Linked DNA regions of Homo sapiens. The protein of the gene in region 1 purifies or fractionates together with the protein of each later gene. This does not show direct contact. Each region holds a gene or a part of one and is shown on either strand. Other genes may lie near its edges.

What was found.
Region 2: the proteins of GRAP (region 1) and SOS1 fractionate together in Homo sapiens (co-fractionation; one study listed by BioGRID). This does not show direct contact.

What each region holds. Positions count from the first base shown.
Region 1 is NC_000017.11:19,029,827-19,033,640, forward strand, and holds part of GRAP (GRB2-related adapter protein), read right to left. Parts: intron 1-3,814. UniProt on the Homo sapiens protein: Couples signals from receptor and cytoplasmic tyrosine kinases to the Ras signaling pathway. Plays a role in the inner ear and in hearing.
Region 2 is NC_000002.12:39,110,931-39,114,744, forward strand, and holds part of SOS1 (son of sevenless homolog 1), read right to left. Parts: intron 1-3,814.

The DNA.
Region 1 (3,814 bases):
GCAGCCGGCTCTGCTGCATGAGCCTCCCAGAGCCAGAGGAGGGAGGGGGCACTGGGATTGTGGGCCTGAGTTGGTGAGAGGAGAGGCTGCTGGAGCCATTCACTTCAGTGGGCAGTGCCGGGGGTGTGAGAGCGTCTCCATTGTGTCTGAGTGTGCATTCCTGGGATGCTTGTGTGTGTGTGTCTGTGTGTGTCTCCCACTGTGTGGAGTGACTGTTATGTGTGAGTCTCTCACTGAGCAATCATGAGTATCTTTGTCTCTCTGTGTGACCCCTACATCCACCTACCCAGGGGAACAAGGGGCTAGGCTGACCCCTGGGCTGTCAGAAAAGCCCCAAGGACCAAGTCAGGCCTAATGCTGGCAGCAGCCAGTCCTGCCCAGCGAGTTTTTCTGGCCTGGTGGCGGCAGCAGCAGCAGCAGCAGCAGCAGCAGCAGCAGCAAAGGTAACAGTGTCAGCCCAGAGAGGAAAAACAAGGCTGGGGTGGGGGCAGGAGCCCTAGGACACCCCCTCCACCACCCCAACCAGGGCTTGTGGACGTGTGGACCCACCTGGGTGCTAACTGCCCGCTGGGCGATCTCCATCAGGCATGGCCCCTCTCTGGCCTCAGTTTGCCCATCTGTGAAAAGGAGGGGTGGAACAACCTGTTCGGCAGCAGACAGGAACCAGAGTCAAGCTGAGCTTGGGAGGGGCAGGACACTGGTGCAGACAGACTCCTGCTGGGTCTTTGGAGCTCAGGGAGGGTGGGTGGAGGACAGACCAGGTCTGTCAGGGCACAGAGGTCGGTGGGCACCAGCTCTAAGTTCCTCGCTGTGTGACCTTGGGGAAGTTGCTGCACCTCTCCAGGCTTCAGTTTCCTTACCTGCAAGCTGGGCTTCTGGGGATCAGGCAGGTCTCCTCACTTCCTCCCTGTCCTTGCCTGCAGCCAGTCCCTTCCTCCTAAAATTGCACCCCCCCTCCACCACTTCCCTGCTTCATTTTCTCCAAAGCCTTGGTCATTGTGTAAGATTTTATACAATTTCCTAATCACTTATTGTCTGTCACCCAGTAGCACATGGGCACTTGAGGGACAGAGAGCTTTGCCCTATTTTGTTGCTGGCTGAATCCCCAGGCCCTGGGACAGGGCTGGCACACAGCAGGGGTTCAGTGACCAGATGGGCAGGGCAAACACATGTGCATTGACTCCAGGGTACCTCTGGCTAGAAAGGAGGCAAATATGTCACTTGGAGACAAACTGTCATTTATGGCAGAAGAGTCCACAGTAGCTTGGATAGGAGTGTGGGGCAAAAGTTAGGCAGCCCAGACATTGCACGCCAGCCTTGGCCCCTGGCCCGCTGCCCGCCAGCTCAGACATGCTCCCTGGAGGAGGAGGGGGACAGCCCTTTGTAAACTCATAAAGGGCAGCTAGCTATGGCCACAGTTGCTCTAGGAGGCAGCATGAGGCCCATAAACCCCACCTCTGACAGCTTTACAGGGCTTGGTGTGAGTATGCCAGAGATGCCATGCATAGTGCCATCAGAGTTCCCAAGTACCAACCAGCAAGGGTGGAAGAGCTCTTACACACAAATCTGCCAGGCTGTCATTTTCCGAGGTGGCCATCAGGTCACCCGGCTTCCCAGCATCTGGGTTCCCTGACTCCCTGTGCTGCTGCCTCTTCTCTAAGAGTGTTGGATTCATGGGCCGGGGGTGGGGGGCAGCCTTCCAGGCCAGGAGGGGCTCCCTAATTCCTCCCCAGCTTGGTGTGCAGTCCTTGGAGCCTTAATATAATTATGATAACTGGCACTTATCATGTGCCAGTCATCATAAAAAACACGTTACATAGCTGTCCATTTTATAAATGAGGAAACTGAGGCTCAGAGGGGTAACTTGCCCAGGATTATACAGCGAGCAGCTAGCAGGTGTCAGAGCTGACTGTTGCTCAAAATACCATGCTCTTAGCCACATGCCCCATTTGAGTCTCAGCTTCCAACTCTGACCCCTGCTTGGTGGTTGTCCAAGGACCACTGAGAGGCCCCATGACAGATGATGGACAGAATGGGAGCAGGACCCAGGAGCCTGGGCCCAGGCAGGAAGAAGCCAAGGGTCAAGGGCTCCACCTGCTGGTGCTGTGTACAACCCACAGCCAGCCAAGCCCAGGAAGCTCCTGACAGTTTTGACCTGGGCACACTTGGCCAGTATGCCTTGGACAAAAGGTTCGGGGGCACAGGCCAGGATTTCTCTGAGGGTCGCTTCCAGATCCCTTCCCAGGAAACACCGGTGCTGGCTCGCCTGCTCAAGAACTGCTCCCTAAGACTGTCCATCTTCCCTCCTGGTCAGAAAACACGTTGTTATCCAAACACACCCCTCGCTTCCCCACCTCTAGATCTCTACTCATGCTGTTTCCTGTGCCTGGCATATCATCTACTCTCCTTGTGCGCCAAAATCCTACTCATGCTTTAGAGCCCAACTCAGATGTCACTTCCTCCCTGGTGCCTTCACTATGTGGAATGTATCCACTGTCATTGAATTTCATTTATTCATTTGCTCATCATAGAGACCCCTGGGCCAGGCTGTGACCATTTCCCCTTCACATGCCTCTGGTTTGTCTCCTGTTTCAGTCCTGCCTTGTGGTTTTCACACAGCTGATGCTCAATAAATGCGTGCTGAGCAAACTCACAAGGCTGGGGTGTTCAGGTCTGATCATGTGCGTGTGCGCAGGTGGCTGCACTTACAGAGAGACGCCTGAAGAGGGCAGCACACTGGGGCGCTAACTTGGAGAGTGAGGCCGCGTGATTTGTTAGAGGAGGAAGCCGGAGGGCGGAGGGAGGGCCAGCCCCTCCCCCTCAACTCGGGCTCCAGACGTAGTTTGAGTCCCCTGTGCCCCCACTTTGCTGGGTGACCTTGGGCTTTGGGGTTGGTTCCAGGAGCCACTCAGCCAGGCCAGCCCGCCTGGCGGACGCCATTCCCAGGAGATGACCAGGCCCTGGACAGCCGACACTTGGAAGACTGCCACGTCCTGCCTCCGCAGGAGCCGCAGCTCCCCGGGGCTGCAGGGAAGTGGTGGCTGGGCTGGGGGGGTGGGGGGTGAGCCCGCGGGGACTCCAGGCTCCAGGTGCCCACACCATCCCGGGGGTGGGCAGTCAGGGCCAAGAACGCACAGTAAACCCCCAGTACACACAAGCGCACACACGCACATGCTGACAGCACTCGCATTTTTAAGATGGGGAAATAGAGGCTCAGAGGGGGCATGCGCGTTCCTGCCCCTCAGGATCACCAGCCTGCCCCCAGGAGAAAAGGGAAGGGAACAAGGCTGATGGCTGGTTCCACCAACTGGGCGCCCGGGCTCAGGGTGAATGTGGGGGGCTGTGACCCCTGAGACGTTGGATCTGCCTCCCTGGTATGGTTTGGATGTTTGTCCTCTCCGAATCTCTCACTGAAACGTGACTCCCAGTGTTAGAAGTGGGGCCTGGTGGGGGGTGTTTGGGTCATGGGACAGACCCTCATCAGTGGCTCTTTGCAGTAATGACTGAGGTCTGGTTGTTGAAAAGAGCCTGGCACCTCCCTCCCCGACTTGCCCCCGTCTCGCCATGTGATGCGCCGGATCCCCTTCCCCGTTTACCATGCGTAAAAGCTTCCTGAGGCCTCACCAGAGGCACATGCCGGTGCCATGCTTCCTACACAGCCTGTAGAACACCAAGTCAAATAAACGCCTTTTCTTTATAAATTACCCAGCCTCACGTGTTCCTTTATCACAACACTAAATGGACGAACACACCCCTAGAGCCGCCTTCCTGACCATAGGCTCCTATTCCTTGCGGGTGCCTCCAGGCTCAGGGG
Region 2 (3,814 bases), on another chromosome or scaffold:
TCTCTATTAAAAATACAAAAATGGGCCAGGCATGGTGGCTCATGCCTGTAATCCCACTTTGGGAGGGCGAGGCAGGTGGATCACCTGAGGTCAAGAGTTTGAGACCAGCCTGGCCAACATGGCGAAACCCTGTCTGTAATAAAAATACAAAAATTATCCAGGTGTGGTGGCACATGCCTGTAATCCCAGCTAATCGGGAGGCTGAGGCAGGAGAATCACTTGAACCCAGGAGGCGGAGGTTACAGTGAGACGAGATTGTGCCACTGCACTCCAGCCTGGGAGACAGAGCAAGACTCCATCTCAAAAAAAAATAATAATAATAAGATGGATTCAAGGATGAAGGGATGGATAGGCATGCCATAGAGCAAACATAATAAAATTGTAATAAAATGTTAATTATAAAATCTGGGTGATGGGTATACGAGTGTTTACTGTACAATTCTTTAGACTTTTCTGTGTATTGAAAAATCTTCATGACAAAATGTTAGGGTAAAAACTTTATCACAAGACAAAATTCTAAAATGAAGTACAAAGTTTCTTCCTATTTTGTCTATAGCTGTAATAAATACTACATCAGAGGAGGTGAGAAGTAGTTGCCACTTTTACTATTATTTGTTTAAAACATCCTTACTGCTGTTACTTCTGGACCTTCCTGCCACTCCTAGAATACAGTCTCCCTCTCTGCTACAGTACACTCCATAATCTCTGTGGACTTCATCATCATTCCCATATGCAACCCAATACATCAACTTTAGAGCTCCTAATTGTCTTACCTGCTTCATCTCTGGAATCCTTTTTTTTTTTTTTTCTTTTTTTGAGACGGAGTTTCGCTCTTGTTGCCCAGGCTGGAGTGCAGTGACACAACCTTAGCTCACTGCAACCTCCACCTCCAGGTTTCAAGCGATTCTCCTACCTCAGCCTCCCGAACAGCTGGGACTACAGGCACACACCACCACATCCAGATAATTTTTGTATTTTTGGTAGAAGTGAGGTTTTGCCATGTTGGCCAGGCTGGTCTTGAACTCCTGAGCTCAAGTGATCTGCCCTCCTTGGCCTCTATCTCTGGAATCTTAAAACTCCAAAATATAACAATTGTCATCATCTCTAATCACATCCCCTATCTACTCCCACTATCCTTCTCTTCTAACTCACCAAGATTTTGAATCCATGGAGCCCTAATTTTTCTTCCAATCCATTATTTCTCTTATATACCCTTACTTCCTCTCTATCACTTGAAATATCCCTATCTTCTTAATCTCTACTGCCGCTACCTGCAACCAACTGTCTTCTCTCCCGGCTTACCTGAACAGATAAGCGCTATTGGAGGAAAATCTCACAACCACCAGATCAACCCTACTCTGAGTTTATGGTCTCCACATTCAGCACTGCTGAGCAATTCCTCTCTCTCCCTCTCTCTCTTGCTCTTTCTTTCCCATGGCTCACTGCAGCATCAGCCTCCTGAGCTCAAGGGATCCTCCCACCTCAGTCTCCCAAGTGGCTGGGACTACAGGTGCGTACCACCATGCCAGGCTTTTGTTTTGTTTTGTTTTTTGGTAGAGACGGTGTTTCACCATGTTGCCCAGGCTGGTCTTGAACTCCTGGTTTCAAGTGATCCTCTCACCTCAGGCTCCCAAGTGCTGGAATTGCAGGCATGAGCCACCGCACCTGGCTTGCAATTCCTTTCTAAGGCACTGGTTGGCTCCTCTACACTCCACAGCAGCAATTCCCAGACTTCATTATTCCTTCTAAAGTCCTTACTACTTTCCTTTTCTTCACTCTGTAAAAAAAATTTGCCTTTCATTTCATCATGAAAATGGAGGTGATTTGGCCAGGTGCAGTGACTCATGCCTGTAATCTCAGCACTTCGGTAGGCCGAGGCGGGCAGACTGCCTGAGCTCAGGAGTTCAAGACCAGCCTGGGCAACATGGTAAAACCCTGTCTCTACTAAAACACAAAAGATTAGCTGCGTGTGATGGAGTGCGCCTGTAATCCCAGCTACTGGGGAGGCTGAGGCAGAGTTGCTGGAACCTGGGAGGTGGAGGCTACAGTGAGCGGAGATCACACCACTGCACTCCAGCCTGGGCGACAAGAGCAAGACTCTGTCTCAAAAAAAAAAAAGAAAAGAAAAGAAAATAGAAGTGATTATTTAGCATGAACTCCCTGCTCCCCAACCTACAAACCCATCTTTATCACTTTCCCTCCTGTATCTCATAAGAAAAGATGTCATCACCCCTGCCAGAGGTAGCATCACTTAGTGTTTTATTCATTAATGTATTTAGAGACACAGTCTCACTCTGTAACCCAGGCTGGAGTGCAGTAGCCCAATCATAGCTCACTGCAGCCTCAAACACCTGAGCTCAAGCAATCTTCCCACTTCAGCCTCCTGAGTAGCTGAGACTACAGGCATGTACCACCATACCTGTCTTCTTTTTTTTTTTTTTTTCCCTTGTAGAGACAGGGTCTCACTATGTGGCCTAGGCTGTTCTCAAACTCCTCCTGCCTTGGCCTCCCAAAGTGTTGGCGTCAATAGCATGAGCCACCATGCCCAGCAATATAGTGTTTAAAAATACAGATTTTAGAGTTGGGGGAGGGAGGCCATGGTGCAAAAATAAATAAATAAAATAATTTTAAAAATAAAAATAAAGATTCTGTAACTAAATTACATGGGCAAATTTAACTTTCCAAACCTTGATTTTCTCTCCTGTAAAAAGGAAGCCGTAATAGTATCCTATGAGAATTAAATGAGAACACAGGTGAAGTGCTTACCTTATCTCCCAAACAGTTCAAGGCAAATCCCATTGCTTTGTGTTCCTGAATCTTCACCAGCATTCTCTATTAGCTCCTTCCTCAAAGGCTCTTAGTAAGTTTTTGTCATCTCCAAGCAAGAAGCAAAAATGTCTTACCCAATCTTGAATCTCTTTTTTGCCTCAGCACTATCTCTTTTCCCTTCCTTTCCAAGCTTCTAGAAAAAAATAATCTGAGCAAAAAGGTCAGCAGCCCTTGCTATTCTTACTTTTCCCATGTTCTTCCATCTTCTACTATCACAATAAAACTGCTCTGACATAGTGACCAATGACCCCTTAGCTGCCAAACTTAACACTTTTCAGGCCCTTTGACTTTTCTATAGCCTGGTATGATCAATGACTCTTTCTTTTCTTTCTATTTTTGTTTCTTTCTTTTTCTGAGACAGGGTTTTACCCTGTCACCCAGACGGCAGTGCAATGGCACGATCATGGCTCACCTCAGCCTCAACATCCCAGGCTCAGGCAATCCTCCCACCTCAGCCTCCTGAGTAGCCAGGACCACAGGTGCGTGCCACCAAGCCTGGCTAATTTTTTTTGTTTTTTGTTTTTCTTTTTGTTCTTTTCTTTTTTTTTTTTCTTTTTTTCTGAGATGGAGTTTCACTCTTGTTGCCCAAGCTGGAGTGCAATGGCACAATCTCAGCTCACCATAACCTCTGCCTCCTGGGTTCAAGCAATTCTCCTGCCTCAGCCTCCTGAGTAGCTAGGATTACAGGCATGCGCCACCACGCCCAGCTAATTTTGTATTTTTAGTAGAGATGGGGTTTCTCCATGTTGGTTAGGCTGGTATCGAACTCCTGACCTCAGGTGATCCCCCGCCTCAGCCTCTCAAAGTGCTGGGATTACAGGCGTGAGCCACCTGGCCCGGCTGATTTGTTTTTGTTTCTTTTTGAAACAGAGTCTAGCTCTGTCACCCAGGCTGGAGTACAGTGGTGTGATCTCAGCTCACTGAAGCCTCCAACTCCCAGGATTCTTGTGTCTCAGCCTCCCGAGTAGCTGGGATTACAGGCGTG